Homo sapiens: one gene and its partners. The protein of the gene in region 2 purifies or fractionates together with the protein of the main gene of each other region. This does not show direct contact. Each region holds a gene or a part of one and is shown on either strand. Other genes may lie near its edges.

Region 1 (10,913 bases), about 50 Mb from region 2:
CTCTTCAACCTGGCTTATTTTATTTTATTTTGCTGATTTACTACTTTCTGCTTTGGAGTTTCTCCTTTTTTCTACTGGCTCTCAGCTGAACTTCACTGAGGCTTCTGGGTACTGTGCATTAAGTCAATGAGCTTCATGACAGAGTGGACTCCTTGGAACCCTGGAACCTCTGGGGCTGTGTTATGCAGCAGAAGGAACTAGAAAGGAGGGCACTGCTGGAGAGCGAGCTAGAGAGAGAGGAAGTTGTGCTGAGCTGTGGAAGTAGGCTTCCCTGGCTGAGGGAGAAGACAGACACCTTCATTCATGTCATGCTCAAATCCCAAGGGAAATGCTTGTGAACTGTTGCTTGAATTGAAGAGAAGCAGAGAATCTATTTCCACTGATTTCTTTTGAGCGTAGGGAGAATGGTGGAAGGCAAGACCAAGGATTAATCTCAGGGAATTGAAGGATTAAAAAAGTTAGGACGAAAGGAAGGGATTTTTTCCATTACAAAGACGAAGAGAAAAAAGTTAAATTGAAATAAAAAACAGGTAAAACTGTTCAGAGTTAAAATTAGGCCTTGGTTGGACGTGGTGGCTCACGCCTGTAATCCCAGCACTTTGGGAGGCCGAGGCAGAAGGATTGCTTGAGCCCAGGAGTTCGAAACCAGCCTGGCCAACATGGCGAAACCTCGTCTCTTAAAAAAAAAAAAAAAAAAAAAAGACCCTAAAGAAGGTGTAAAGCTGAAAAAGATGAAGGACACTGAAAACCATGAGAACAGCATGAGCAAAGGCACCTGGGTGGTGGTGGGAAGGAAGGTTGGGGTGGGGAACACAGACTTTTGGGGAAATAACACTGGCTAGATTTTAGAGCAAGATTTGTAGGGTGAGTGCCAAGCAGAACATTTCAGACTGAATTCTAGAGTCAACAGAAGAATCCTTGTCGGATTCTGAAGAGGGAAGAGACAAAAGAGTGTTTTAAGATCAATTGGAAAGGATTGACTAGAGAAGGGGTGTATCAGAATCGGTTAGCATACTGATGCCATTTACCCTGGTATCAGATCACATGGCTAGCCAACCCAGACAGCTCCCTTCTTGGACAAGATGGCCCCTCATCCCTACCAAGAGTGACCTGAGCTGAAGAGTTTTGCATTTAACATACAGACAGAAATATAAGCACACAAGTCAGTTACAAATTCAGTTCTGATAAGGGCAGCATAAAAATGGTTTAGCCACGTAAGGCACGGTGGCTCACACCTGTAATCCCAGCACTTTGGGAGGCCGAGGCGAGTGGATCACCTGAGGTCAGGAGTTCAAGACCAGCCTGGCCAACATGGTGAAACCCCATCTCTACTAAAAATATAAAACTAGCTGGGCATGGTGGTGGGCGCCTGTAATCGCAGCTACTCGGGAGGCTGAGGCAGGAGAATTGCTTGAACCCAGGAGATGGAGGTTGCAGTGAGCCGACACGGTGCCACTGCACTCCAGCCTCAGCAACAGAGTGAGACTCTGTCTCAAAAAAAAAAAAAAAAAAAAGAAAGAGAAGAAAAATGGTTTAGCCAATGTAATCCACTCCATCCTATGGCATAATAGGCTAGATATGTGGATTTTGTTAATTAGTAGCATGCATTCCATATCTAATGGGTACAAAAACCACAGATTCCTAGAAACTTGGGACTAAATAGTTCACTCTAACTCCTTACTTTATGGATGAACAAAGTGAAATCCAATTTTGAGAAGGAACTTGTCCAATGTCACTAAACAAATTAGTGACATAACCAGGGAACATGGTCTCTGAGAGTAATTCCCTAAATTAGATTTCATAGATTGGGAGTTTGTAAAACATAATCACATTACTCTCAACACAGGAATATGAATATATAGTCACTAAATCTATTACTGTGGTTATAATCCAAATACTTGGAAAAGGTTTTCATATAGTCACTAAATCTATTACTGTGGTTGTAATCCAAATACTTGGAAAAGGTTAGCTTCTAGTTACTTATTTCCCCATACTTGTTTTGAATATTTTATGCCATCCATATAAATCAATACCACAACAACGATGGAATTCACTAACAATCAAAATAAATCAAAGCTAGTTTTCTGGCCTCTGAATTACATGTACAGTAATACATTTTAAAATAATGCTTAAAATTGCCAACTCTACTTCATACGATTATAAAAATTATTGTACTTATAAGAAATTGACAATAATTTTGCAAGATTGTAGAATTCAAAAGAGCACTTATACTTACATTGAAACCTGACATGTTAATATCTATCCGTGGTTCACCTTCCTTTTGTCCTTTTGGTGCGATTTGATTGAGAAGATGGAAATAGGCTTTGGAATCCTACAAAGAATTGAAAATGTCAGTGAGATCACAGTTACAAGGAATGAATGTATCCTATTGTCCCATGTTTGGAAGGCTATTTGCATTGGATTTTTTGAGAATAAATGGCACAAATCTCTGCCTTTTAATTTAACAGGTGTTTTCCCCAGAAAAGTCCATCTATCTGCCTTATATCTGTCTTGCATATGGATGAACTGGATTTTGACATGACTTCGCAATTATTAAAGTCATCAATACAATAATGCTAATAAACATATAACCAGTTCTGTACCTTCACTGAATTACTGAAGTCAATAAGCTTGACAGACAAAACAAGCATTTAAAAAAGTAGGAGAGCAGAAATCCAGGAAGCATAGAAGAAAGAGAAAATAAACAGGTTATATCATTACAAAGCACAATGCATATACCACAACCTACGAAGAAGAGATTAGCTATGTTAAAGATGTATTTAATTGTAAATTTAAATGACAAAAGCATTAAATGGTAAACATTTTAGTTGCTAAAATAACACTGAACCCTCTATGATCTGAATGTACTTAACAAAACAAAGGTCTCTTTTCGTTTTAAACCCCTGGACTAAATCACTTGAATGTTGTTTTCTTAGAATCCCAATACATAAAACAATGGGGTTGGCTCACAGTCAACATGAATTCAGGTTGTGTGGACAACTCCACAAAACACAGCTTGAAAACTATTGTACTTGCACAAACGCTTATTAAGAACCTTTACACACGTGTCAAGTAAATTCCTGCATCTTTGGAATGCTAGAGGACCGGAATTTGAGTCAAGATTCCTTAATCCTGCCATATGTGAAGACCACCTTCCAGCTACGATATTAATAGTTTCCTGTTACTGGGCTTTGAAGGTCCAGACAGGCTATGAAGGAGTGTTTCTCATAGTCTATGTGCATACTAACCCCTGAGGAAGTTACTCAATATGTGAATTACTGAATCCAATTCCTGAGCTACCAAATATAAATGTCTGGGAGCTGCCCAGAAAGGTGCCTTTTAAACCAGTTACCCAGGTGAGTTTGAAACTTGGTGCCATAAATGATTCTAAGAATGGGGAAAATCAGGTAATTGAAAGCTATTTCAGAGCAATTCATAAAATGCCAACTCCGATTCTATCATTTGGGGGCATAGCATTTACCTCTTAAGGAATAGTGTACTACAATTGCGAAAGTGCTTTCACTTCCAATTACTTGCTAAAGCTACACAAACAATTTATAATAAACCTATGCTCTTGAGAAGAACAAGTAAAGAGCAGACCCAGCAAAATCTGTATTTACTACCCTGAAAAGGGCTTTACAGGTGAAAATTTGAACTTGAATACAGATAAACTGGAAGTTAGTTTTCACATTACCAAACAATTATTTCCTTTTTAAAAATATTGATGGCCGGGGGCGGTGACTCATGCCTGTAATCCCAGCACTTTGGGAGGCCGAGGTAGGCAGATCACGAGGTCAGGAGATCGAGACCATCCTGGCTAACACGGTGAAACCCCATGTCTACTAAAAATACAAAAAAAATTAGCCAGGCATGGTGGCGGGTGCCTGTAGTCCTAGCTACTCAGGAGGCTGAGGCAGGAGAATGGCGTGAACCTGGGAGGTGGAGCTTGCAGTGAGCCGAGATGGCGCCACTGCACTCCAGCCTGGGCGACAGAGCAAGACTCCATCTCAAAAAAAAAAATAAACAAAAAATAATTTAAAAAATAAAAAATAAAAAAATTCAAAGCAGGCTTCATTTACAAAAATAAGATTTTCTCTTTACATTTAAAATATATCCCACTACATAAAATCCATTTATGGTTGGCTTGCTGATTTTCAGGAACGCATCTAGTGCATGAAGCAAAATATACCTGGCTGGCCAGGTACCATGGCTCATGCCTGTAATCCCAGCATTTTAGGAGGCCGAGGTGGGAGGATCACTTGAGCCCAGGAGCTTGAGTCCAGCCTGGGCAACACAGTGAGACCCCATCTCTACAAATAATAAAAAAATCAGGCCGGGCACAGTGGCTCATGCCTGTAATCCCAGCACTTTGGGAAGCCGAGGTGGGCAGATCATGAGGTCAGGAGTTTGAGACCAGTCTGACCAAGATGGTGAAACCCTGTCTCTCCTAAAAATACAAAAATTAACCAGGCGTGGTGGTGGATGCCTGTAATTCCAGCTACTCAGGAGGCTGAGGCAGAAGAATCTCTTGAACCTGGGAGGCGGAGGTTGCAGTGAGCCGAGATAGTGCCACTGCACTCCAGCCTGAGTGACAGAGGGAGACTCCATCTCAGAAAAAGAAAAAAAAATCAATCGGGCTTGGTGGTGTGCACCTGTAGTCCCAGCTACTTGGGAGGCTGAAGTGGGAAGATTGCTTGAGCTTGGGAGGTAAAGGCTGCAGTGAGCCATGTTAGCAGCACTGCACTCCAGCCTGGGTGACGAAGTGAGACCCTGTCACAACAACAACAGCAACAACAACAAACCTGGCCAAACATATTGTGTAATTAAAAGAGAGGGCAGGGTCAGTTGGTCTTATAATTTTGGGGCTACTCTTAATTTTCATGGATGAAATCAGTAGTACAGGCAACTCACTGCTTCCTCTCATCACTGAACAAAATCATATCATCACATAGTATTGTTTTCACAGCCTTGCTGGTCAGTGACATCTGATGAAGATCCTTAAGTTTATTCCCTGTGTACCAACATCTGGATGTCACACAGAATTGAGGCAGTTAAGGAGAACTCCACACAATGTTTGCTATGGTAATGTTGGCCCTCTGCATGAGAAGCCAAAGGCAACATGTAATAAATGTCTTCCTCCATTGTTAGTTTTCCCCCACTGCTCATGATAAACAGTGAGTGAAAAAAAAATTCAATTCAATGCAAGAAATATGAGGGACTTGTATATGCCACATACTATGTTTTAAGTTGGCTTTAGTAGGAGGGCCCTGGAGCAGGGGCTGAGGTAGGATACACAGACATAAATAAGAGCTCATTGCTATCCTCGAGGAACTCACAACTAAAGGTAGGATAAAATGACAGGAGAGAAGCCAAATAAAAAAGGTGAAGAGGAAATCATGAGGCCCTTCCTATCTCTTCTAGGTGTGTTTACTAACAGGTACACTGAGGCTTGGGAAAGGCAGTTAAGAATAGAATAGTCATGTCCTATTCTTTAATACTCCATGTTTACCAATAGGCAGGATATAACAAATTAGCATTATAATATGATAAATTAGCATAATATTTTTACCTTTTCCCACAAAATAAAACATAGGTGCTAATGTACCTTATCTGGCTCTATTACTCTTCTAAAATCTACCTTCAGGGCCAAGAGACAACAAGGCTTGGTGATACAGTGTTAGGATTTTCTCTCTGTTAAGCTGGGATGAAATCTTCCAGCTATTATATCCCCCCAAAATGTTGTGATTCTTTCAACAGTTACCTTGATGTCAGCACTAAAGTTGTTAATTTTTTGCCAGCCCGAGTTTTCCAAATGAAAGTTTGCCCATCTAAGCAGAAGCTCTTCTGGAGACAATTTCATAAGTTCCTCCAAAGTCTCACCATCTCGGAGTAAAGCAGCCAAGGCTAGAAGAAAAAAAAAAAAATCCCACAGTTATTATATGACACAATAATGGTCATGCCAAGTTCATTCAGTCTTTTGACACTGTTAAGTAATAGAGGTGCAAAAACTACTATGACATAGTTCCTAGTTTCAAGATACTCATAATCTACTAAAAAAGATAAATATATAACAGATATAATAACATAATACTACAATTTATTCTTTTCTCTGTTATTCTTCACATTTCAAATACCAAATGAGGTTATGGCCTTTAAGCTTAATGCAAGCTTCACATTATGTCATATGTTTGTATAAGTTGTTCTTATTTAACACTTCTAAAGTCAAGGATTTGGGTCTGGGTGCAGTGGCTCACGCCTGTAATCCCAGCACTTTGGGAGGCCGAGGCGGGCGGATCACGAGGTCAGGAGATCAAGACCATCCTGGCTAACACGCTGAAACCCCATCTCTACTAAAAATTCAAAAAATTAGCCGGGCGTGGTGGCGGGCGCCTGTAGTCCCAGCTACTTGGGAGGCTGAGGCAGGAGAATGGCGTGAACCCGGGAGGTGGAGCTTGCAGTGAGCTAAGATCGCACCACTGCACTCCAGCCTGGGCAACAGAGCGAGACTCCGTCTCAAAAAAAAAAAAAAAAAAAGTCAGGGATTTGGGGGAAAGATGTTTACAATTTGGGAATCTTTTACTTAACCTTTTGATTAAAGTAGTCTAGAAACACGGTGGTATTTGTATTTAAGTAAAATTAATCAATTAACTCTTGAAGGCTCAATCCTATTTTAACAGAAATATAATTCATCCTTATATTTTCTTTTTCTTTTCTTTCTTTTGAGAGAGTCTCGCACTATTGACCAGGCTGGAGTGCAGTGGCGTGATCTCGGCTCACTGCAACCTCTGCCTCCATGATCTCGGCTCGCTGCAACCTCTGCCTCCCAGGTTCAAGCGATTCTCCTGCCTCAGCCTCCTGACTAGCTGGGACTACAGGCACATGCCACCACGCCCAGGTAACTTTTCTATTGTTTGTAGAGACGGGGTTCCGCCATGTTAGCCAGGGTGGTCTCCAACTCCTGGCCTCAAGTGATCCACCTGTCTCGGCCTCCCAAAGTGCTGGGATTACAGGCATGGTCCAACACACCCGGTTGCAATCTTACATTTTCTCTCTTTTTTTTTCTTTCTTTCTTTTTTTTTTTTTTTTTTTGAGACAGAGTCTCACTCTTTCGCCCAGGCTGGAGTGCAATGGCACAATCTCAGCTCACTGCAACCTCCGCCTTCCGGGTTCAAGCAATTCTCCTGCCTCAGCCTCCGGAGAAGCTGGGACTACAGGCACGTGCCACCTCGCCTGGCTAATTTTTTGTATTTTTAGTAGAAACGGGGTTTCACCATGTTAGCCAGGCTGATTGTGCCACTGCGCTCCAGCCTGGGTGACAGAGTGAGACCCTGTCTCCAAAAAAGAAGATGGTGCAAAATGGTGGAGCTGAGGGTGGCAACGGGGTAGAAGTTGTGTAGGCAGAACAGAAAAAAATAGATAATCAAGTTTGAGGACTTCAGGAAAGCTCCTTAATCTCTCTGTGCTTTTGTGTCATTATTGCAAAATGAATTGTAAAGTGCCAGACAAATGTGAATTACTAGTAAAGAAGAGAGTCATGTAATTAGGCTATTTTCCTGAATAACTCTATAGCATTACCTTATGTTCATTCTAGTTACCACCATTTAATCACCTCCATTAAGTGAGAGCACGAAAGTCTGCATGACTAGAAAAAAATAACCAATAAACAACTGCCAGAATGACTGTGTTCCATTACCTTCATTCCTGCTTAATTCAATGTCAGCGAACAAACCGATCTTAATGATCTGCCAAAGCAGTCCCAAAACCAGATGAGGTTTCCCAGCCCTCAAATCTTCTGCACCAATGTTCACAACATGACACCCAATGGCAGAAGCAGAGTTCAGTGCCAAGTTCAAGTTTTCCTGCAAGACAGCCAAATTACACACTTGCTTCTTGACCTTTCCATTTTTTAGCAGTCTACTTTCTCCCTTCACTGAAAATAACATTCAATGAGGAAATTAATACCCTGTATTAATTTCATCCATATATGTGTCACAAAAAACAAATTCCAGAGTTTTGTGTTAGAAAGCCTAGCTAAGACAAATTTCAGCCTTATTGCTATTGCCTTTTGCAGAATCTCATGAGAAGTTAACTTTGTATTTTTATTTGGTACCTTTTGAAGTATGCTGGCACTAAATGAAAAGGCTGAGTACCACAGTAAATATATCCATGTGAGTAAAGTGTTATAATTCCAAAAATGCCTAAATGGGTGAGAGACCAACAGTACTGCATATGCCCAAAAGAGTTTTAGAAGTTATCAATGTCCACATCCCAAGAGGTGCTCTTCTCTGAGGGAATTTTGCTAATAATCTAATATTCACTTGATAGAAAAAAAAATGCTCCATTTCTTAAGCACGCCAGTTAATTAAGAGCTTATATACTTCTGCTTATCTCTGTAGTGCTTGAACACATTATGAAATGAAAAGAACATGGGGCTTTGAAATTAGAATGGGATTTGAACCTCAGTTCCAACATTAATCTCAGGCAAGCTCAGAAACCTTTCTGAGTCCCAGTTCTGTCTGTATAATCTGGATAACAATCCCACACTCAACAGTTTTTACAAGGATTGATTGGGAGCCTACAGAGTGCAGAGGCTGAAGTCTGCAGAACAGGTCCTCAAACAGTAATTTCATGTTAAAGGGAGGGGAGAACAATGCATACCTGAATGATGAAGGGTGTAAGTTTCTTCTTGTTGATTGCTCTTTCATCAATGGTATCAGGAACTGAAAGGTTAATCATTTTACTGAAACAAAAATTTAAAAAAAGGCTGATGTAAAAAAAAAGAGCTGATTTCCTTTTATAAAGTGGCTGTAAATATTTACAAATATTTTAAAGCTTACTATAACATCTCTTTCATGTACTCTAAAAAATGCAGCTAGATGACTTTTATCATGTTGATCATAATAAACTACACATATGGAAAATAAAAACTAAAAATAAAAAAGGCCAAGGCCTGATGTGGTGGCTGATGTCTATAATCCCAGCACTTTGGGAGGCTGAGGCAGGAGGACTGCTTGAGGCCAGGAGTTCCAGACCAGCCTGGGCAATATAGTGAGACCCTGTCTCTACAAAAACGATAAAAAAATTAGCCGGGCATGGTGGCATGTGCCTGTAGTACAGGTTACCCAGGAGGCTGAGGAAAGAGGACAGCTTGAGCCCAGGAGTTCAAAGTTAGAGTGAGCTACGATCACACCATTCCACTCCAGCCTGGGCAACAGAGCAAGACCCCGTCTCAAAAGAAAAATAAATAAATAAATAAATAAATAAAACCCTGGCCAGGCATGGTGGCTCACGCCTGTAATCCCACACTTTGGGAGGCCAAGGCAGGTGGATCATCTGAGGTCAGGAGTTGGAAAACAGCCTGGCCAACATGGGAAAACCCCGTCTCTACTAAAAATACAAAAATTAGCACAGCGTGGTGGCACACACCTGTAGTCCCAGCTAGTCGGGAGACTGCGGCAGGAGAATTGCCTGAACCTGGGAGGCGGAGGTTGAAGTGAGCGGAGATCATGCCACTGCACTTCATCCTGGACAACACAGCAAGATGCCGTTAAAAAAAAAAAAACCCAAAAAGACCAAAATATGTGCATAGTAGTTGGGTATCTCTGAGCAGAGGATTGTAGCATGCTTTCTCTTTCAATTTTTTTTAATTTTTTCTCATTCTTTTATGAAAGAAAATAACTTGGATATTGAAAACAAAACTTGGGCCAGGTACAGTGTGGCTCACGCCTGTAACCCTAGCAATTTGGGAGGCCAAGGCAGGCAGATTGCTTGAGCTCAAGAGTTCAAGTCTAGCCTAAGCAAGATGGTGAAACCCCATCTCTGCAAAAAGTTAAAAAAAAAATTAGCTAGGCATAGTGGCGCATGCTTGTAGTCCTAGCTACTTTGGAGACTGAAGTGGGAGGACTGATTGAGCCCAAGAGGTCATGGCGGTAGTGAGCCATGATTGAATCACTGCACAGCAAGACCCTGTCTCAAAGAAAAAAAAAAAAGTGGGGGGTGGAACTTTATTGAATATATTTTAAAGACAGATAAAATCCTGCATTGGAAATGAGTCTTTTCCACAAAACAGTAAAATTAGTTGAGCATGAGATTCTTTCATTCACCAAATGTTTACCGAGTGCCTCAACAATGAGCCAGACACTATATTTGGTGCTGGCAGTATAGTGGCGAGAGAAAGATTAGGTAGGCTATAGTCTGTGACTCATTAGGAAAAATCTCATTTGGTAAAATCTAGATTTAGACTTTAACATTTTATTTTTTATTTTGTTATTTTTTAGAGACAGGGTCTAACTCTCGCCTGGGCTGCAGTACAGAGGCCCAAATCGTAGCTCGAATCACTGCAGCCTCGAACTCCTGGGCTCAAGGGATCCTCCAACCTCAGCCTCCAAGTACCTGGGATTACAGGTGCGAGCCACTATGCCTGGCTCTAACATATTAGATGTTCATAATACTGCCCTAATAAATTTTTTTCTACAGAAAGAAAGCCATGCTTCTTTCCATGCAAAATTCAAATCTTAGTTAGTTCAATATGATTATCTCTTATTATTTTTACAATTTATAGATTTTTTGAGTTCTGCAGGGTGAGTCCCCAGAGAGGGAAACTTGCAGTCTTCTCTCTATATTAAAATGCAAGGGAGGCCGGGCACGGTGGCTCATGCCTGTAATCCCAGCGCTTTGGTAGGCTGAGGCAGGAGGATCACTTGAGGTCAGGAGTTCGAGACCAGCCTAGCCAACATGGTGAAACCCTGTCTCTACTAAAAATACAAAAATTAGCTGGGTGCGGTGGTGAGCACCTGTAGTCCCAGCTACTCGGGAGGCTGAGGCATAAGAATTGCTTGAAACTGGGAGGTGGAGGATGCAGTGAGCAGAGGTCACGCCACTACACTCCAGCCTGGGCGACAGAGCAAGGCTCC
Region 2 (10,913 bases):
GGCATGAGCCACCACACCTGGCTAATCCTCCTTCTCTTATCACACCCCTACTCCCACCCAATAGTGAAACAGACAACGTGGTGCAAAAAGAGGCTAACGGTCTCACTCCTGGGATTTCTGGGACTGGCTGCATAGTCTGTGCCTACCTCACTTCCTTTCAGTCTTGGAGTCTCTTAGCCTCTACAATTAGTCTGTTAGTACAGGCAAAGACCAGTTGCTGCTTGTCTGAGTCCATTTTATGTTTGTTTTGTTTTGTTTTTGTTTGTTTGTTTGTTTGTTTGTTTTTGACAGTGTCTTGTTCTGTCACCCATACTGGAGTGCAGTGGTGCAATCTCAGCTCACTGCATCCTCCACCTCCCAGGTTCAAGCTATTCTTCTGCCTCAGCCTCCCGAGTAGCTGGGACTATAGGCACGCACCACCATGCCCGGCTAATTTTTTTGTATTTTTAGTAGAGACCAGGTTTCACCATGTTAGTCAGGATGGTCTCGATCTCCTGACCTCATGATCTGCCCATCTCAGCCTCCCAAAGTGCTGGGATTATAAGCGTGAGCCAACACGCCCAGCCCATTTTATGTTCTTATAATAAAATACCTGGAGCTAGTTACTTTATACAGAAAAGAGGCTTATTTGTCTCCTAATTGTAGTGGCTGTAAAGTCCAAGAGCATGGCACCAGCACCTGCTCAGCCTCTGGTGAGGGCCTTTGTGCTGTTTCATAATGTGACAAAAGGTCAAGTAATTCACAGGGACAGGGGTCCCCATGACTGAAACACCTCTCATTACATACTACCTCTTAATGATTCTACCTCCCAGCACTGCCACACCGGCAATGAAGCATCAACATGAGTTTTGGTGGGGACAAACCACATCCAAACCATAGCACTGCTCTACTACTTCTGTTCCAAGTCTGTTCTCCCCCCATGACCTAATATCCTGGCCCTCATGGTCCATCTTCTTCTCTTCAGCATCTTCAGTGGGTCTTCTCTCTCTCTCTCTTTTTTTTTCTCTCTCTCTCAGCTGGATTGTTTCTTGGATCTTGCCTTTTCCCACCAATTGCATCTGGACACACTATTCTTCTGCAACCCTGTGGAAAATGATTAGAACTGTTAATTGGGCCTTGGGCCCTGTTTAGATCTAGGATGATATACAAGGTGCTTTAAAAAAATCTTTTCTGTTCACGCCCACCCACTACCTTCATCCTCTGCAAAAAGCCAATATTACATTTCAACATAAGCATTCACATTTCTCCATCTGAAACTTTCTGGCAGTTCCAGCTGCCTATTGACTTAGAGTCAGGGAATCAACTGGCCATTGAATTCTGGAAGCCTTTTGAACTTTCCTCATTACCTCCCACCCCCACTGATCTTTTCTAAACATGTTTCTAATTATCCACATCAGCAAGAGGTAGCTGGGAAATGGGATTGTTTTTATTAACCATTTGCAAAATAACCTTGTAATGTAATTAGTACAATGATAGAACTTAAGAGAAAAAAGAGATCATTGAAGCCATACTCCCCAATTTGGATAGATAAGGAAGGCGAGGCCCAGAGAGGAAATATGCTACCTTGATATCATACAGCTAGTTGGAGACAGACATGAACATTTTGCTCAGGTTTCCTGATACTTGATCCAAGCTATGAAGGGGAAGGGTGACCTGGTGAGCAATGAAGGTCGATGACTTGGGGGACATGGCTTCTCCCCAAAGTGGTTGTCGCTTGGGTCTAGTGGGAATGCCAGGAAGCATATCTCGATGCAGAAGTGATCAAAGTTTATTACCTGGATGGGAAATTTGGGCCAAAGGAGAGACAAGGCAATTAATCACTTGAGAAGCTCAGGAGTCGTAAGCTCATATGAGTACTTGGCATTAGGACATAGCATGCTAGAGAAGAAAAGGTACAAGCTCTATAGTCAGACACATCATGGTTCTATATGGCTCTGTAATTTTAGATGCATTACCTCTCTAAGCCTTAGTTCCTCATCTATAATATGGGTATAATTGCTATCTCACAGGGTTGTTTACTGTTCAGCGCCTGACACATGATTGGTGCTTAATAAATATGAGCTACTTTTTTCTTTGGGGTCTCTGAAGCTCTAGATTGTAAACTCTGGGTGTGACTGTGGGGCCTGACTTTGGATGCATAATAGAAACTTTGTGGATACAGTGTTAGTGTGTGTATGTGTGTCTTTGTGAGTGAGTGTGTGTGTGCATGTGTGTGTGTGTATTTTGAAGGGAGATATTAATTTGTTCATAAGGGAAGGACATCAGCAAAACTGGGTCCTTGTTCCCTGCTTCCATCTCCAGGTATATTTCTATGATTCTTTCTCACCTTACCCTTACCCTCCACTTGCATCCTTCTCCCAAAAAACAAAATAAAAAAGACTGCCTAAGGCCAGCCTGACCTCATTAGGATGTGGCTCAGCTTCACTGCTGCCATCGACAGTGGTGGGTATGCTGGGGTTGAGCTGAGGGCCAGACTATTAACATGCTAATGTCAGGGACTAGAGAACAGAGCTCATCTGTGTTCTCTTGGCAAGCCTCCTTTTCCTGCCCACTGTTCAGCCAGGAGGCTCAGGACAACAGGGGGCACCTCAGCTGCTACACTGAGGTACTTACCCTATTTCTACCCTCATTTCCACCCTAAACCTGTGTAAGAGGAATCATGACTTGGCTCTGATCAGGGTTGGAAAAAATCCTCTCAGAACCCAGGCACAGCATGGCTTCAGAGTCCTTCACAATCCCCGTTTTATCTTCTCAAACATTCTTTATTTGGGGTATTGTAAATGGAACTCAGTCTTAAGGGTGTGGGTATTACCCCCAGTTGCTAAGGATGAAGGACAATATATGGGAGTGGCCCAAGAGAACAAGATACAGGAGTTAATCCAACAATCTCCACCTTCAGCCTTTAATCCATCATGGAAGTGGGAAGTGGTGTGACATTGTAGAGGGAAGGAGGAGGTGGCAGAAATCACTGGATATGCATGGATTTGGAGTCAAACAGACCTGGTTTGAACCCTAATTCTGTCACTCACAACCTGAAACTTGGGCAAGTTATTTCATTTATTTGAACCTCATTTTTGATATCTATAAAATGGGCCTAATTGTAAGTCTAGCATAGGGGTATTATGAAAATTAAAGGAGATGATGGATGTAAGGTTCTTGGTATGTGTCAGTGCTCATAAGTAATAGATCCCTTTCCTGCCTCAGCAGTACTTTGTGCAGAGAGATGCCGACATCAGTTCTTGATTGCTGCTCAAGTATATTTTCTTGCCAGATGCTGAGCACCTTAAACCCTTTAAGGGCAGATATAATATTGACTTCAAACTTTGTGTCCTCTGTGCCTCACACAGAGGAAGTATTCAATCAATGGTTGGTTGTTTTGGTTTTCTCTTCTAGGTGGTGAAAACTATTGGCTTGAGGGAAGTTTGGTTCTTTGGTCTGCAGTACCAGGACACTAAAGGTTTCTCCACCTGGCTGAAACTCAATAAGAAGGTAACTGCTTATTCCTCTGTTGGATTTAGAATTCTTTTCTTTTCCAGAACATTCCTGGGAGGGTACCATGTGCTAGTTGGCAAATCCTGGATACCTAGGGCTGTGTTTGTGACTGGGTGGTCTGTTGACCACTTGGATCAGAATAAGGACCGAGGACACAAGCAAGGCAAAGCTCTTGCTCTGTCTCTACTTTGACTTCTAACAGCGACAATGGCCAGCATTCAAAGAAGAAGAGACTCTTTTCTTTCTAATGGGAACACTAGCTTGAACTTTGACTTGTTTTGGATCAAATCCATTAGTGGCTTTTCAAGAGAGGATTGGTATCCCCTTCATCTCTCCAAACTCAATGGCTTTAGGGGATTTGTGTTTTTTTTGTTTGTTTGTTTTTGTTTTGTTTTGTTTTTGACGGAGTCTCGCACTCTCGCCCAGGCTGGAGTGCAGTGGTGCCATCTCGGCTCACTGCAAGCTCCGCCTCCTGGGTTCACGCCATTCTCCTGCTTCAGCCTCTCGAGTAGCTGGGATTACAGGTGCCTGCCACCACGCCCGGCTAATTTTTTGTATTTTTAGTAGAGACGGGGTTTCACCGTTTTAGCCAGGATGGTCTCGATCTCCTGACCTTGTGATCCGCCCGCCTCGGCCTCCCAAAGTGCTGGGATTACAGGCATGAGCTACTGAGCTTGGCTGGGGATTTGTTAAAAAGAGCCACAGATTCTTGAACTAGAAAAAAAAAAATCTGAAAGATCTTACAGTCTTATGCTGCACCTTCTCCAGCAGTCAACTAATGTCTGAACCCCATATAGATGTTTCCCTCTTTCTTGATCTTTTACCTCAGTTGGACCCCAAATGGGATGGTTTGAGTCCATGCAAGCTCTCCACCCCAAGCAGCATCTTCACGGGAACCTGGCAGCCTTCCATCTTCGTATCCTCAAACTGGCTGGCCTTGTCCTTAGAAGTCTCCATACTGTCCTGCAGTTTGCTTCTCTGATTGTGTCTAGGGAGTAGGTACCCCACCTTCTGCTGGTAGAGTCTTGTTTTCCTAAAGAGTTGAGTCTTTTGCTGGACAAGTGTGGAGCCACTAGTATTCCATTTCAGGCTTTAAAAAATGGTCTAATTTGTGCTCTTGTTTAGCCAGTTCTCAGTCCTCAGACATATATCCTAGTCCTTACTTTGCTAATTTATGAAGTTGGAGGAGACTTATAAGACGAGCTTAAAAGAAGAGCTTATGCCTACTATCAGAATTTGGGGATAGTTGGATATAGTCAGATAAAAGTGGTTTGAAGATTTCTGATCATCAGTCGGTATTAAGGTAATTTCAGGAAGAAATTCCCAACAGAAAGTGATTACAGACATGGGATTCAGTCCCCAGTGAAAGTAATGTATTATTTTTCTTAATTACCAGGGGAGTTGCCACCCAGCTGTCTAAGATTATGCAAATTGATGATCTTTCAGTGTTTTCTCCCCACCCTACAGCCACTCCATTACCCTTAAAACCTATTTTTTGAGAGTCCATAACCCTTACTCTTCCCAGGTGACTGCCCAGGATGTGCGGAAGGAAAGCCCCCTGCTCTTTAAGTTCCGTGCCAAGTTCTACCCTGAGGATGTGTCCGAGGAATTGATTCAGGACATCACTCAGCGCCTGTTCTTTCTGCAAGTGAAAGAGGGCATTCTCAATGATGATATTTACTGCCCGCCTGAGACCGCTGTGCTGCTGGCCTCGTATGCTGTCCAGTCTAAGTATGGCGACTTCAATAAGGAAGTGCATAAGTCTGGCTACCTGGCCGGAGACAAGTTGCTCCCGCAGAGGTGAGGTGGTTCCCTGCCCTCCTTTGCCTTGGCCATAAGGGGCTGCAGCCCACAGCTGACCAATCCCTGCCTCACAGGGATGCCAGATCTGTTCTTCTCCATTGGGGTCTGTCTGAAGACTGTGTTATGCTGCTCAAGAGACATTTGCATATAGTGTCAGACTCTGTTGTTGTTTTTCTGGCTTTCCAAATAAAAAGCCTTTTTGTTTTCCCTCTGTCTACCTGGTTACAGAACTTTATTACCCTGGAGGCAGGTGCTTATATAGAACCAGAGATTGAGTAATTTCTTTCACCCATCCCTGGTTCCATTTTCTCAGTTCTTTTTACTGATTTAGATCTCTTATATCAGAAGTTCACAGGGGAGAGAGAGAAATAAGCAAACCGAGGACATGGGGAGCTCAAATAGTCTTTTAATATTGACAGCTAGTGTACAGAGCTTTCCCCTTTTGTAAACTTCAAAGTCAAAAGCTCTAAAACACTCATTATTTTTGTTTTTGTATCACAATAACACACAAAATGAACAAAGCAGGCAATATCCTTATTTCCTGGCGAAGGAAATAGAGGTGCAGAGGTACTCACACTGACTTTCCCCATCTGGTGCAGCTCATCTGAGGCAGAGCCAGAGCCAGACCTGGAAGCTTAGCACCTTAATATTTTAACACTAAGTTTTTTCCTACTATACCCAATGGCCATTTCCATAGTCTTTTGGATTAGAAGGAAAAGCTTTGCTTCATTCTGGGAGCCTCAGTCCCATTGGAGTTATGGCATATATGTACAACACACCCATAAGATATTAGGGATAGTGCTTGTACCCTGGGGACTCTACCTGAGTCATTGCCATGATATCTGAGATGGCATGTTTAAAGCAAACCTTGTTTATAATCTAGTAGGTCTTGGAGGTTGGGCCTGTTGGTTTTTCTGAAAGCCATTAGGACTCAGTTCATTGCTCTGTAGCCAAAGGCCATCCTTTCATTTCTGAGCAGTATTCTTATAAACATAGAGTGTTGGTCCTAAGAGGATCTAGGAGAGAGTGTACCTGACTCCATGAGGTCCATCCCTACTGTTAGCCCCTAAAGTCAGCACAAACTCCTGACACATTACTGCTATGCTTAGGGACCACAGCACATCATTTGATTTGTGGATGAAGGTACAAAGGAAGGTGTTCCCCTTGTTGTTTTTGATCATCCATTCTTGTAGCTCTCTTACCTTTCAGGCAATTCCTTGTGTCTAGTTTAACACCTTCTTGCTATAATTTCGGTCTGCTTCCAGTGTGACCTCAATTGGCTGACTCTACATCCTCTTTGCATCAGCCCCTTAGAAAGCTAAATGGGCTTCCCTTCTCTCCTGCACAGGGACTTTGTGCTTTAAACTACTCATCACCCATTGTCTTTCCAGAGTCCTGGAACAGCACAAACTCAACAAGGACCAGTGGGAGGAGCGGATCCAGGTGTGGCATGAGGAACACCGTGGCATGCTCAGGTAAGCTTGCCCAAGCAGTGGTGGGCCCCACTTCCCTTACAGGGTGAATGAGAATGCGTTCTAGGGAGAAGAGACTGATGACAAGGGACATTGGTGGATGTTGGAGAAAGAGGGAACAGGGACGATAGAAGGCAAACTAGGACCATTATAAGGCTGTTTTTTGTTTGCTTGTTTGTTTGTTTTGCTGAATGCTGGTAACTGGTAGCCCAAACAGTTTTGACTATCAAGAAATGGAGGGAGCTCTTACACATGGCAAAGCATTTTTGAGGGTTGTGTAGTTGAAGGACAAATATCATCATTTTGCCATCACCACATTCTGAGCCCTGCTAAGAATGTGCCTTTATAAGAGGCTGTCACAATGAATGAGAGAAAGAAAATTGCTTCTATGGCAGCCAACATGCCAGAGGCCAGCAAGGGTCAGCCCATCTTTATTCCCCTTGGGAGCTTAGACCCTAGGTTTTTGTTAGGAGATTTTGCTTTGCAAAAGTCATGCTGTGCTCTGTTCTCCATCATCTGCTTGCCTTTTGTCCCCTTTCCCACTCCTGATAGCAAGATCCTTGTCAGAAGTACAGAGTAAGCAGGCTTTCTATCTCCTTGGGTCTGACTCACAAGCCCCACTTTGTGACCCCCAACTCTGTGTCATTTAGGGAGGATGCTGTCCTGGAATATCTGAAGATTGCTCAAGATCTGGAGATGTATGGTGTGAACTACTTCAGCATCAAGAACAAGAAAGGCTCAGAGCTGTGGCTGGGGGTGGATGCCCTGGGTCTCAACATCTATGAGCAGAATGACAGGTATATCTCAGATCTCTTTTAGTTTATTTAGGTCACGTTAACATCTAGGGCTCACTTTTCACCAAGGAGCAGGGCCATATCTCTTGGGTCCCATCTCAGTTCTTTTTCTACCTAATTTAGTCCAGCCCAGATGATTTCACAACTTCCCTTAGTCAATACTAAATCCTGTATTGACTAGACTCACACTGTCAACTATGGTAGCCACCAGCCACATGGGGCTATTGAACACTTGAAATGTGGCTACTTTGAATTGAGATGTGCTGCTGTAAGTGTAAACTACACACTGGACTTTGAAGACTTAGTGTGAAAAACAGAACGTAAAATGTCTTAATATTTTAAAAAATATTTATTTACATGTTTAAATGATAATATTTTAGATATATTGGGTTAACTAAACTTACTATAATTTTATTACATCCATTTCTTTTTACTTATTTTCATGTGGCTACTAGAAAACTTAAAATTATATATGTGACAGTCATTATGTTTTTATTGGATCGTGCAGGCCTAGACTATCTTATCAGCATTTGTAATTAGTCTCCTGTGATGGTTAAGTGGCTTTTGGCCTATAATCCTCTCACTGTAGCCTTATCCCACTTGCTTATATTTTTCACTTGGTGTGCTCTTGGTGAGGATGGAGAGCAATAAATTATTGTTCCATATAACTCCTGAATCTTGGAGTTCATTATTTACTTTCTCTCAAACTTTTGTAAGCTTGGATAGAAGAGACTCAGTTAAATAGGGCTGGGGATTCCCTTGAGGAACTGTTACAAGTTCCATGCCTCAAACAAATACATAACAAAACAAACTTGAGACAAGGAATCATATGTTAGTTGTACTATCAGGAGATCTTTAGTGAACTCTCAATGCTGGCAGCTGACCTGGTGGCGTGTGATGACACTGGCTGAGCTGTCACTGAGTCTACCTCCTCCAGAGAGAAGTGTTTGTTTGGCCAGGCTCAGTGGCTCACGCCTGTAATCCCAGCACTTTGGGAGGCTGAGGAGGGAAGATTGCTCAAGCCCAAGAGTTCAAGACCAACCTGGGTAACATAGTGAGACCTCGTCTCTATTTATTTTAAAAAAAAAAAAAGAGAGAGAGAGACATAGAAGCTTGGAGGTGACAGTGAGGGCAAGCCCCCAGTTCTCTACACCCTTCTTGTCTTGCCCTTGTCCTGATGTTATTGGTTTCTATTTCTACAGACTAACTCCCAAGATAGGCTTCCCCTGGAGTGAAATCAGGAACATCTCTTTCAATGATAAGAAATTTGTCATCAAGCCCATTGACAAAAAAGCCCCGGTGAGTGATTCCTCCCTCTGACCAAGACAGGTACTTGCCAAGGCCTGCATAATGAGCAATCATGCTATTCTATTTTTCTCTTCCTTTTCTGATGTGTTTGTGTGTACGTGTGTGCGCGCATGTGCACGAACAGGAAGCACAAATAGAGATTGGGAATGGAGGGGGATGTTGATGCCAAGAAATGGCCAGCAGACATCCTGTACCTGGTTCTACTCTGCTACCTGTCTCTCTCACTGTGGATGTGGGAGAGCCACAGGCAGTGTTAAGAACTGCTTCTTAGCCATTGCCTCTGCTGCCCTGAGGTTCTGGGGTGGAAACCGAATGCATCTCATATTTCCAAGCCCCTGGGTCCCAGAAAGTGGACACTGTTCACATATTTGATTCCTTCCTTCCTTCCTCTCTCTCTCTCTCTCTTTCTTTTTTTTGATGGAGTCTCGCTCTGTTGCCCAGGCTGGAGTGCAGTGGTGCAATCTTGGCTCACTACAACCTCAGCCTCCCGAGTAGCTGGGATTACAGGCGCATGCCACCATGCCTGGCTAATTTTTGTAGTTTTAGTAGAGACAGGGCTTCAACATGTTGGCCGGGCTGGTCTTGAACTCCTGACCTCAGGTGATTTGCCTGCCTTGGCCTCCCAAAGTGCTGGGATTATAGGCGTGAGCCACCATGCCCAGCCCTTGACTTCTTTTTTTTTTATTGTGGAGAAAGGGCTGTGGCCAAAGTCCAAATCTGAAGATGATCCTACAGACTTCTTGGTAGAACTTTACTGCTGCCCTCTCAGACTTTTCTCCAGAGCAATCCAAGACCAAAAAAGTGCTTTAAGTTCATTCATTTCTCTAACACACTCGCCATGCTTCTTACCCACTCAGTAGCCTGCAGCTGACAAGACCAGACAGCTGGTGATTGTGGGTAGGTTAGGAAACTGAGCTGAGTGTCCCCTTTTCTGGGATACTGCATGTCCAACAAGGCCCAGTGACAATGCTGAGCCTGACCCTTTTCATGAAGGCTCAGTGATTCTTCTCCAGCCATGAGGTGCCTGAACTTCCCCTGCTAGGGACTTTACACATGTTGTCTCCTTAAACCCTCAGCAACATGGTCAGGTAGGTACTAAGTAGCATACTAATTTTATGGCTGACAAAACTGAGGTTAGAGAGATGGAGTGATTTGCCCAAGATCACACAGCTAAAAATGGTAGAGCTGGGATTTATACCTGCACCCCAAGCTATATGAGACAGTAGCAGTGTGTGGTCAGTGGCAGAGGAGATGGTGGTGCCCATCAGCTGGTGACTTCGGTCCAGTGGTATTTGTAGTAACAAACTCAAACTCACTGGATTTTCTTGTGTGTTTTCTTTTATTGCTGCTGTGCTCAACTATTATCAGAAAAAGTTAAGTAACAAAGCCAGCTGAGATCAAGGGCTCATTTTAAAAACAACAACCAGGACAAGCAGTGATCAGGAGATTTATGTATTCATGTATGTATTTACAGCCTGCCTTGTTCCAAAAAGGATTTAAGGGGCTGGGTCTAGGATTTGCTTTTAGGAGATTGTAGAAACAGTCCAGCCACCCATACTGCACCCACCAGGGTATTATTCAGGGGTCATTTGGCTTCCAAAAGAGGTCACCTGAGACCTAGCATGTTCCCTAATTAGCAGAGAAAGTTTGAATCCTTCAACTTGATTAAGAGTAATTTAGGATGCTTTCACAAGCAAAGATTGAAAGAAATTGTGGTTTCATAAGCAAAGATTGAAAGAAATTATGGGAAGAACATGGGTTTCAGAGTCAAGAAACCTGGGTTTCTAGTCTTGGGTCTGTCTACTGTCTAACCCTGGGCAAGTCACTTTACCACTCTGATAATTAGTCTTCCCATCTGTAGTGCAGGAGGTCAGATTAAATATTCTTTCCAGTGCTTTTGGATTTAGCTTTTCAGAAGGCAGAAGATCACCTTCACCTGTCCCTCCAAATTCTTTCTGATTGCTGATTTCCCACCAGGACTTCGTCTTCTATGCTCCCCGGCTGCGGATTAACAAGCGGATCTTGGCCTTGTGCATGGGGAACC
Region 3 (10,913 bases), on a different chromosome or scaffold from region 2:
ACATGTTTAACTGAATTAGCTCAACTGCTCTATGCACAAAGAAATAAGAAACATCTCTCATGACAGATTAGCAAAAAGTGGGTATAAACTGCCTTTTTTTTTTTTTTTTTTTTTTTTGAGACAGAGTCTCACTCTATCGCCAGGCTGGAGTGCAGTGGCGCGATCTTGGCTCACTGCAACCTCTGCCTCCCAGGTTCAAATGATTCTCCTGCCTCAGCCTCCCAAGTAGCTGGGACTACAGGCATGCACCACCATGCCCAGCTAATTTTTATATTTTTAGTAGAGATGGGGTTTCACCATGTTGGCCAGTATGGTCTCGATCTCTTGACCTCGTGATCCACCTGCCTCGGCCTCCCAAAGTGCTGGGATTACAGGCATGAGCCACCTCGCCCAGCGCCAATTCTTACCTATCAGCTATTTTACCAAACCTGATCTCCTGAGTTCATAAATTTCCTGGGGTTAGCAATGGTGGCTTACACATTAACATCCCTCCAGCACACAGCACACTGCTTTGCAAGGCAGACTTAATAAATGAACTGTATTTAAGTGAGCCTTTCCTGATGCAATTGAGATACAGCAAAATGGCCAGGCACAGTGGCTCTCACCTATAATCCCAGCACATTGGGAGGAAGAGGCTGGTGGATCACTTGAGGTCAGGAGTTCAAGACCAGCCTGGCCAACATGGTGAAACCTCGTCTCTACTAAAAATAAGAAAATTAGCTGGGGCCGGGCGCGGTGGCTCACGCCTGTAATCCTAGCACTCTGGGAGGCCGAGGCGGGCGGATCACCTGAGGTCAGGAGTTTGAGACCAGCCTGGCCAACCTGGTGAAACCCCATCTCTACTAAAAATATGAAAATTAGCTGGGCGTGGTGGTGGGTGCCTGTAATCCCAGCTATTTGGGAGGCTGAGGCAGGAGAATCACTTGAACCTGGGAGGCGGAGGTTGCAGTGAGCCGAGATCATGCCATTGCACTCCAATCTGGGGGACAGAGCAAGACTCCGTCTCAAAAAAACAAAAAGAAAACAAGCTGGGCATGGTGGCAGGCACCTGTAATCCCAGATACTCGGAAGGCTGAGGCAGAAGAATCGCTAGAATCCTGGAGCCAGAGGCTGCAGTGAAGAGAGATCGCATCACTGCACTCCCACTCCAGCATGGGCGACAGGGCGAGATCTCAAAAAAAAAAAAAAAAAAAAAAGAGAGAGATACAGCAAATTACTGCTTTAGACTAACTCAAAGCAACTAGAAAACATCACATCTTTCACTGGTCTTAAAGACCCGAAATAAATGTCATCTGGCCAGGTACAGTGGCACACACCTATAATCCCAGCACTTTGGGAGGCTGAGGTGGGCGGATCACCTGAGGTCAGGAGTTCGAGACCAGCCTGACCAACATGGAGAAACCCCGTCTCTAATAAAAATACAAAATCAGCCAGGCGTGGTGGTGCATGCCTGTAATCCCAGCTACTCGGGAGGCTAAGGCAGGAGAATCGCTTCAACCCAGGAGGCAGAGGTTGCGGTCAACTGAGATCATGCCACTGCACTCCAGCCTGGGCAACAAAAGCAAAACTCCGTCTCAAATTAAAAAAAAAGAAAAAAGTTGCCATCTTCCATTTCCACTTTTTTTTCCCTCCCAAGGGATCAAACTCACATTTCACTTAGTTACCTCTCTGCAAAATGGAAGGTTTCTTTTTTTTGTTGAGACAGAGTTTCACTCTTGTTGCCCAGGCTGGAGTGCAATGGCACGATCTCAGCTCACTGCAACCTCCGCCTTCCAGGTTCAAGGGATTCTTCTGCCTCAGCCTCCCGAGTAACTGGGATTACAGGCATGTGCCACCATGCCCGGCTAATTATTTTTTTGTTTTTTGTTTTTTGTTTTTTTGAGACAGATTCTCGCTCTGTCACCCACGCTGGAGTGCAATGGCACAATCTCAGCTCACTGCAACCTCCACCTCCCGGGTTCAAGCAATTCTCCTGCCTCAGACTCAGGAGTAGCTGGGATTACAAGTGTGAGACACCGCGCCCTGCAATTTTTTGTATTTTTAGTAGAGACGGTGTTTCTCCATGTTAGTCAGGCTAGTCTTGAACTCCTGACCTCAGGTGATCTGCCCGCCTCCCAAAGTGCTGGGATTAAAGGCGTGAGCCACCGCACCCAGCCTAAATGGCAGGTTTCTAAAGACACACTTAAAAGTCAGTCCAAAGCTTTTCTAAAAATATGATAACCCAGGTCCACAGACGCAAGAGAATGACAACAAATGAATCCCTCATGAAACCTTTTGCCAATTTAGAGATCCCCAGGAATATAAAACCCACAAACACTGTTTCATCAGTAATAGTAACATGCTTCTCCCTTTTAGCCTCTAGCTTATTCACTGCACCATCATATTTCACAAACCATGATTTAGAATTTGGATTGTAAACTCAGGCCAGGCACAGTGGCACATGCCTGTAATCCTAGCACTTTGGAGGCCAAGGTGGGCAGATCGCTTGAGTTCAGGAGTTCAAAGATCAGCCTAAGCAATATGGTGAGACCTGTCTCTACTAAAAATGTAAAAAATTAGCTGGGTGTCGTAGTACACACCTATGGTCCCAGCTATTCAGAAGGCTGAGGTGGGAGGATGGCTTGACCCTGTCTCAAAAAAAAAGCTTGGATTAATATTGAAATATTGAATCTAATGAAATATTCAACATACCATGAGAGAATGGTAACAATGCATCTTTGCCTAGAAAGAATGCATGTAACAGAGCCGCACAGGGCAAATGCACTATCAAAGGCTCAATCCTTCAATTAACTTGAAATGGGCCATAGTGAATGTGTTTTCTGAGTTATAACAGCACTTTCATTTTCAAGAACAGTCTGTATGTAGTCTAACCTAGTTAATAAATACAGGATTATGTAACTTGGTAATTAACCAGGTTTCCAACTCACATCTTCAATTCAGAATGTCAAATACTGACAAAAAAAAACATAGCAATAAGACACTTTCAAGAGAGTTGATGAGCCACTTATTTTTGACAATATTTAATAATGAAACCTCAAAACAAGAAAATGAAGGAAATTCACAGCTTGATATGATGGAATCAAATAGTCAAAACTAAGCAATCTAGGGAAAAAATTAGCCTTTAAATTAGCAATTAAGAAAGATAAATTTTTCTTCTGTTAAGCCCTTTTAGTCTAAAAAGAAAAAAAAACCTCTTAGAGACAAAAATTACATTAGCTTCCACAATATAGTTCCATCCCTCCTTTTAATAAAATGGGAACATGAAAAAAATGACAGACATTTTAAAAATCACTTCACACTACTCATACAATATTGTTCAAAATGAGCAAATGTTACAAGTATTTAGAACATCCGAAGTTGCCCTGTGAACTGTATTTACATTACATGCATTACTCCAAACTTACAGCTGGTAAAAAAAAAAAACCACAAATTAAATCCCAATCAAAAAGAGGGGTTGATCGATGACAGCCCATCAACAAGTAAGTGGAAATACATGCTAATTTCAAGCTCCATTAGAAATGGAGTTGTGGCATACTTCCACATGGAGAAAAATAAGTTTGATAGTTATAAAAAAAAACTAAAGAAAATAATGAACATTTAAGGCTCTAACAGAGAAAGGGCAATGTTGACATTTTATTTTTGAAGTGTGGTTCTTTGCACACTTGGAACTTTCAATAATGGATAATTCAGTATAGTGCTCTCACAAGTGAGCAAACAGCATGAGACAAGGCAAGTCACGCTGGACTAATTCCCCACACTGTTCAGTCCATTCAATCCAGGCCCACAACATGTGGGGGACAGGGCAGATCACCAAGCAGTACATGTAATATCTTCAAGGTCTGGAAGCAGGCATACTGGTACCCAGGCAAGTTTCAGAAAGTGCTGCTCTATGAGACTCTTCCAGATGTGTTTTAACTTTTTCCTTACAGAAAACAGAAGCTGCTAATAAGACTTAAATCCTCCAACATGCATAGAATAATAACCTAAATTTCTTTAGGACTTCAAAGTGGGCCAGGCGCAGTGGGTCACGCCTGTAATCTCAGCTCTTTGGGAGGCCAAGGCAGGTGGATCACTTGAGCTCAGGAGTTTGAGACCAGCCTGGGAAACACGGTGAAACTCTGTCTCTACAGAAAACACAAAAATTAGCCAGGCATTGTGGCAGGCGCCTGTAGTCCCAGCTCCATAGGAGGCTGCGGTGAGGGGATCACTTTCAACCCGGGAGGTCAAGGCTGCAGTGAGGTGTGATTGCACCACTGCACTCCAGCCTGGATGACTGAGTGAGACCCTGTATCAACAACAACAAAAAGACCTCAAAGTGTGTGGTTTTGGTCACTTGAGAAAAAAATGATTTGGGCAGAGAAGGTAGAAAGAATAATTGGGTTCATGTTTTTCACTACTTATTTATTATCTCCATATAGAAGGCCAAACTCACCCCCAAAATTTTTTTGAGTAAATTTTTTTACCTGTTCATTTTTCCACCTTTTATGCACAATAAAATTCACTCTCTCGTATACCAATCTAAAAACAGCTGTGTGGGCCAGGTGAGTGGCTAAAGCCCGCAATCCCAGCACTTTAGGAGGCGGACGGATCATTTGAGGTCAGGAGTTCAAAACCAGCCTGGCCAAAATGGTGAAACCCCGTCTCTACTAAAAGTACAAAAATTAAACAGGTCGTGGTGACACATGCTTGCAAATCCCAGCTACTCAGGAAGCTGAGGCAGGAGAATCATTTGAACTCAGGAAGTGGAGGTTGCAGTGAGCCGAGATCATGCCACTGCACTCCAGACTGGGCGACAGGGTGAGACTCTGTCTCAAAAAAAATAAATAACAGTTGTGTGATCACCTCCACAATCAAGATACAGAGAAGTCAAATGAATTTATTTTCACAACAGCATGTACCTACAACTAATCCACAGAATATAAGAGTACAAAATATTATTTACTTAGAACACCTGCTTCAAGAGCTAAGTGGGCATCAACTTCTGAAGAGGCTGACGAAGGACTACAGTTGACAAGGCAGATCCCTAACATCCCTGACAAGGAACGTTCCTGAACAGAAATTCAGTACCAAACCCTTTCTGGATGACATCATCACCAGCATGTGGCCTTCCAGAACTTATTATATATCCAACCAGCCCGAGAGACATCTCCTCTTCTATCCAAGTTTGTGACCTGCTATTAAAACCCCCCTTTCAGCTTCATTCAACAGTCAGCCTACAGTCACACCACTTCAAGTACTCAGACAATAGATCAAGAATGTCTAAAGTGGAAAATACCCTGATGTACCACAGGTGATGATAAAGTACATTTCTGGAGAGGAATTTGGAAAAATTTTAAGAGCTATAAAAAAGTAGCATACCTTGGAAATAATCCAAACGTCCATCAACATATGAATGGATAGGTCAGACGTGGTGGCTCACGCCTGTAATCCCAGCAGTTTTCGAGGCTGAGGCAGGTGAATCATTTGAGGTCAGGAGTTAGAGACCAGCCTGGCCAATATGGTGAAACCCCGTTTCTACTAAAAATAAAGAAATTAGCCGGGTGGTAGTGGCGCACACCTGTAATCCCAGCTACTCAGGAGGCTGAGGCAGGAGAATCGTTTTGAGCTTGGGAGGCAGAGGTTGTGGTGAGCCAAGATCGCACCACTGCACTCCAGCCTGGACAACAGAGACTCTGTCCCCTCCAAAAAAAAAAGTATGAATGGATAAACAAAATATGGCATATACATACAATAAATGGAACATTATTCAGCCTTTAAAAGGAAAGAAATCCGGCTGAGCACGGTGGCTCACTCCTGCAATCCCAGCACTTTGGTAGGCCGAGGCGGGTGGATCACCTGAGGTCAGGAGTTCAAGACCAGCCTGACCAACATGGAGAAACCCCGTCTCTACTAAAAATAACAAAATTAGCCAGGCATGGTGGCGCATGCCTGTATCCCAGCTACTCAGGAGGCTGAGGCAGGAGAATCGCTTGAACCCGGGAGGCGGAGGTTGTGGTGAGCCAAGATCGCGCCATTGCACTCCAGCCTGGGCGACAAGAGTGAAACTCCATCTCATAAAAAAAAAAAAAAAAAAAAAAAAAAAAAGGAAAGAAATTCTGGGAGAGGATTCCAGATTCTAAAACAGCAGAGTAGGAAGCACCAAGATCAGTCTCCCCACCTAGACAATTACACTGGCATAATTAGTCAGATGTAATTCTGGGGACTGTTGAAGAAAGCTTGCAACTTCCAAGGAAAGACTGGGACAGTAAATTGGGTTAATTTCAGTCAATTTCAGCCCTTAGCTGAGCAGCAGCTACCCCATTCCCTAGCCCCCAGCCACGGGCAGACAACCTACAATGCATTCCTGAAACAGCTTGCAAGCAGCTTTTGGGAACCAGGATGGGTAATAAGGACCCTGTCCTCCAAATATTAGGGATCCGTATTCTAATTGCTGATTGCTGCTTATAATCAGGGATAGGCAGACACTGAGAAGGATAGCCATTATTGCACCCCCTCCATGACTGCAAGTCCTCCCCCTCCAGCTGAAGTAGACTTCCAGGAAATTTAATGGGCCAAGGGCCCCCACCTCCCTACTTCCTTCATTTTTCTCTTTTTCCTCTTTAGGAGCTAGACTTTAAAGACTAGGATATTCAAAAGCAATCATGAGGGTGCGGGGGAGATAAGGAAAAAAGTTACCATGGTGCATGCGCCCAGGGAAAGGTGCAGGCTCAAAAAAGACCTGAGAAGTCCTTAAGTTTGTATCTCAGGCTGATCCTCAGCATAAAAACAAACTGTAACAAATAAACAAAAAAATCCAGCAAACCCTGGGAATGAGAAGAGTCCAATTTTCAGAGTTAGCACATCATTAGATTCAAATGTCCAGTTTTCAAAAAAAAATTAAAAAGTCCCAGGTCATACAAAGATACAGGAAAGTATGACCCATTAAAAGAAAAAAAAAATTAACCAATAAAAACTGTCCCAGTTGCTGGGCACGGTGGCTCATGCCTGTAATCCCAGTACTTTGGGAAGCCAAGGCTGGCTGATCACCTGAGGTCAGGAGTTCAAGACCAGCCTGACCAACATGGAGAATCCCTGTCTCTACTTAAAATACAAAATTAGCCAGGTGTGGTGGCGCATGCCTGTAATCCCAGCTACTCAAGAGGCTGAGGCAGGAGAATCGCTTAAAGCCAGGAGGCAGTGCAGTGAGCCAAGATCACGCCATTGCACTCCAGTCCGGGCAACGAGAGCAAAACTCCATCTCAAAAAAAAAACAAAAACTGTCCCAGAGAAAGACCAGATGGAAGACCTACTAGACAAAGACATTAAAACAACTGTCTTACAGATGTTCAAAAAACTAAAGGAAGGTATGGGAAAAATCAAGAAAATAATGTATTTTAAAAATAAAAATATCAGCCGGGTGTGGTGGCTCACACCTGTAATCCCAGCACCTTGGGAGGCCGAGGTGGGCAGATCACGAGGTCAAGAGATCAAGACTATCCTGGCCAACATGGTGAAATGCCATCTCTACTAAAAATACAAAAATTAGCTGGGCGTGGTGGCATGTGCCTGTAGTCCAGCTATTTGCGAGGCTGAGGCAGGAGAATCACTTGAACACGGGAGGCAGAGGTTGCAGTGAGCCAAGATCGTGCCACTGCACTCCAGCCTGGTGACAGAGCGAGACTCCGTCTCAACAACAACAACAAACAAACAAAAAAAGTTAGCCGGGTGTGGTGGCAGGCGCCTGCAGTCCCAGCTACTAGGGAGGCTGAGGCAGGAGAACGGCATGAACCCGGGAGGCGGAGGTTGCAGGGAGCCAAGATCGCACCACTGCACTCCAGCCTGGGTGACAGAGCAAGACTCCATCTCAAAAAAAAATAAAAATAAATAAAATAAATAAAATTAAAATACCAGATTAGCCAGGTGTGGTGGCACATGCCTGTAATCCCAGCTACTTGGGAGGCTGAGGCAGAAGAATCACTTGAACCCAGGAGACAGAGGTTGCAGTGAGCCGACATCACGCCATTGCACTCCAGCCTGGGCAACAAGAGCAAAACTCCATCTCAAAAAAAAAAGAAATAGGAGAAAAAAAGAATATATTACACATAAGCTGAGGACTGCATGGAGAGGATTTCATCAGTGATTAGATCTGGGTGGCAAGGAAGAAGAATGGGCTGTAGATGGTTCTCAGTTTGCCCAAATTTGTTATTGGAGGCCCTCCATAATCTGACTGTTGCCTCATCTGTTATCATTCCATCCACAAGCTAGACTCCAGGCAGAAAAGACTTTTTCCTCCTTCACTCAACAAGCATCTAATTTGCCCTCCATGCCAGGTACTAAGCACCAAGACAAGAACTAAGACTCTCAGTTCCTGCCTTCAAGGAGCTTACAAGGCTCCCTTCCTAGCAGTAAAGGCAAACAGGTACATCAATAATAACGTACAGCATAATGTAATGCACCACCCAGTGCTAAAAAATTTGCTACCAGAAACGAAAGTGCTGAGTCTTAAGATATGACTAAAAGCTCATCATGAAAGGTTATGTTGGGAGAGTAGAAGGGAATCACTGAGGAAGCAACTTTACCCTAGGCCCCCAACATCCAGTCCATTTTCTTTTTTTCTGAGTCAGGGTCTCACTGTGTTGCCCAGGCTGGAGTGCAGGGGCATGATCATAGTTCACAGCAGCCTTGAACTGTTTTTAAATACTGTATGCCTCAGCGGCATTACATATATTCACGATCCATTTCCAGAACTTTTTTCATCTTCCCAAACCGAACTCTGTACCCATAACAATAGCTCCCTATTCCCCTTCACCTGGCCCCTAACAACCACCATTCTGTTTTCTTTCTTTCTCCTTCCTTCCTCCCTCCCTTCCTCCCTTTTTTTCTTTTGTTTGAGACAGGGTCTCACTCTGTCACCCAGGCTGCAGTGTGACATGATCAGAGCTCACTGCAACCTCCACCTCCCAAGCTCAAGCAATGAATCCTACCACCTCAGCCTCCTGAGTAGCTGGGACTACAGAGCGTGTCACCATGCCTGGTTGATTTTTTTTTTTTTAGAGGCGGGGTCTCATAAAGTTGCTCAGGCTGGTCTTGAACTCCTAGCTTCAAGTGATCCTCCCAACTCAGCCTCCCAAAAAAACAGGATTATAGGCATGAGCCTCCCTGTCCAGCCCCAATCCATATTTAAGTCCTGTCTCATTTCTCCAAAATACAGCTCCCTTCATCCCTACCACCTCGTACTCCACCATCTTCCTAGCTCAACTCTCTGCTTCCACATGCACACAAACACAAGCCTTCTCCAAGCACTAGCAGGAGTCTTAAAAAGGAAATCAAATCATGAAACTCCCTACAATGGCTTCTTACACCTCTAGAATAAAACCCCAACATGGCCTCTGCCTTCTCTGGCAATCTCATGTGAGGTCTTCTCCCCACTGAAAAAGTACCCAAGCTATACAAGTCTTCTCTCAAGTCTCTAAACACACGGAGTCTTTCCTGTCTCAGGACCTCTACAAATGCAGAGGGCCCTGTTCCTTCTCTCCATATTCTCACCAGCACACAACACTACCCCCAACAATCAGGGCTGTCTGTTATGCCCCACAGTGAGTTACGTTCTCAAAGAAATCCGAAAGTGCGGTGGCTCACACCTGTAATCCCAGCACTTTAGGAGGCTGAGGCGAGTGGATCACCTGAGGTCAGGAGTTAAAGACCAGACTCACCAATATGATGAAACCCCATCTCTGCTAAAAATTAAAAAATCAGGCTGGGCACGGTGGCTGAAGCCTGCAATCCCAGCACTTTGGGAGGCCGAGGTGGATCACGAGGTCAGGAGTTTGAGACCAGCCTGGCCAACATGGTGAAACCCTCTCTATCAAAAATACAAAAAAATTAGGCAGGCATGTTGGCACACACCTGTAATCCCAGCTCCTTGAGGTTGAGGCAGGAGAGTTGCTTGAACCCAGGAGGCACGGGTTGCAGTGAGCCGCAATTATGCCACTGCACTCCAGCCTGGGAGACACAGCAAGACTATCTCAAAATAAATAAATAAATAAATAAATAAATAAGCCGGGCGTGGTAGCTTGCACTTAGTAATCCCAGCTACTCCGGAGGCTGAGACAGGAGAATCGCTTGAATCCCCAGGAGGTGGAGTTTGCAGTGAACTGAGATCACCTCACTGAACCCCAGCCTGGGCAACACAGGGAGACTCCATCAAAAAAAAAAAAAAAAAAAAAAAAAAAAAAAAAAAGAAGGAAATCCCAAAACCCGGGCAGGGCAGTTACCCTGGATCTCCACATCTGGTTCATGTCTCCAGAAGAGACAGGAGTCCCACTTTGGACACCTTGAGTTTGAGAAGCCTGGGACACCCAAAAAGCTTCCCAATGCACAGGTGACCATGTGGGTCAGGAGACACACCTGCACTCAAAGGCTTGGACTTTTAGCACATAAGGCTGATGACAGAAGAGACTGCACAGAGCAGTGATTCTCATCTTGGAGGAGGGTACCTCTCATCTCTAAGTCACTATATGAAATGAGATATCACTGATGGGAGTGAAGGTGATGCCACATCAGTGGTGTGGAGGACAAAGATACTTTGGAAAGAACCCTGGGTACGAGAGGAAAGAGTGAGGGCGAGGAAAAGAAAGAAACTGAGATGAGTCAAAAGGAAAAGAAAACCAGGAGAGTGATATCACAATTCCCCAAACTCCTATGCCCTTTTATGCTTCTCATGACTTTCTCCCTTCACTTAAAAAAAACTCGACTCATGTTTCATCCAGATCAAATGCCACCACCTCCTGAAAGCCTTTCTGGACTTACCCAAGTAAAACTTATTAGCCCCCTCTCCGTGCCTCTACAAGTTTCTTTTGTTGTTACTATTAGGTAAGATTTGACTCAGACAATAGTTTCATTAGTACTGTTAAGGCACTTACTGCAGTCCGCTC

The links.
Region 1: the proteins of MSN (region 2) and PLS3 fractionate together in Homo sapiens (co-fractionation; 2 studies listed by BioGRID). This does not show direct contact.
Region 3: the proteins of MSN (region 2) and CTNNA1 purify together in Homo sapiens (co-immunoprecipitation; 2 studies listed by BioGRID and IntAct, with this or other methods). This does not show direct contact.

Annotation. Positions count from the first base shown.
Region 1 is NC_000023.11:115,631,827-115,642,739, reverse strand, and holds part of PLS3 (plastin-3), read right to left. Parts: intron 8,741-10,913; coding exon 8,659-8,740; intron 7,860-8,658; coding exon 7,694-7,859; intron 5,905-7,693; coding exon 5,762-5,904; intron 2,631-5,761; coding exon of another isoform or gene 2,604-2,630; intron 2,333-2,603; coding exon 2,237-2,332; intron 1-2,236. UniProt on the Homo sapiens protein: Actin-bundling protein.
Region 2 is NC_000023.11:65,724,421-65,735,333, forward strand, and holds part of MSN (moesin), read left to right. Parts: intron 1-3,393; coding exon 3,394-3,489; intron 3,490-5,017; coding exon 5,018-5,292; intron 5,293-6,686; coding exon 6,687-6,770; intron 6,771-7,417; coding exon 7,418-7,564; intron 7,565-8,763; coding exon 8,764-8,860; intron 8,861-10,846; coding exon 10,847-10,913. UniProt on the Homo sapiens protein: Ezrin-radixin-moesin (ERM) family protein that connects the actin cytoskeleton to the plasma membrane and thereby regulates the structure and function of specific domains of the cell cortex.
Region 3 is NC_000005.10:138,755,152-138,766,064, reverse strand, and holds part of CTNNA1 (catenin alpha-1), read right to left. Parts: exon of another isoform or gene 10,902-10,913; intron 1-10,901. UniProt on the Homo sapiens protein: Associates with the cytoplasmic domain of a variety of cadherins. The association of catenins to cadherins produces a complex which is linked to the actin filament network, and which seems to be of primary importance for cadherins cell-adhesion properties.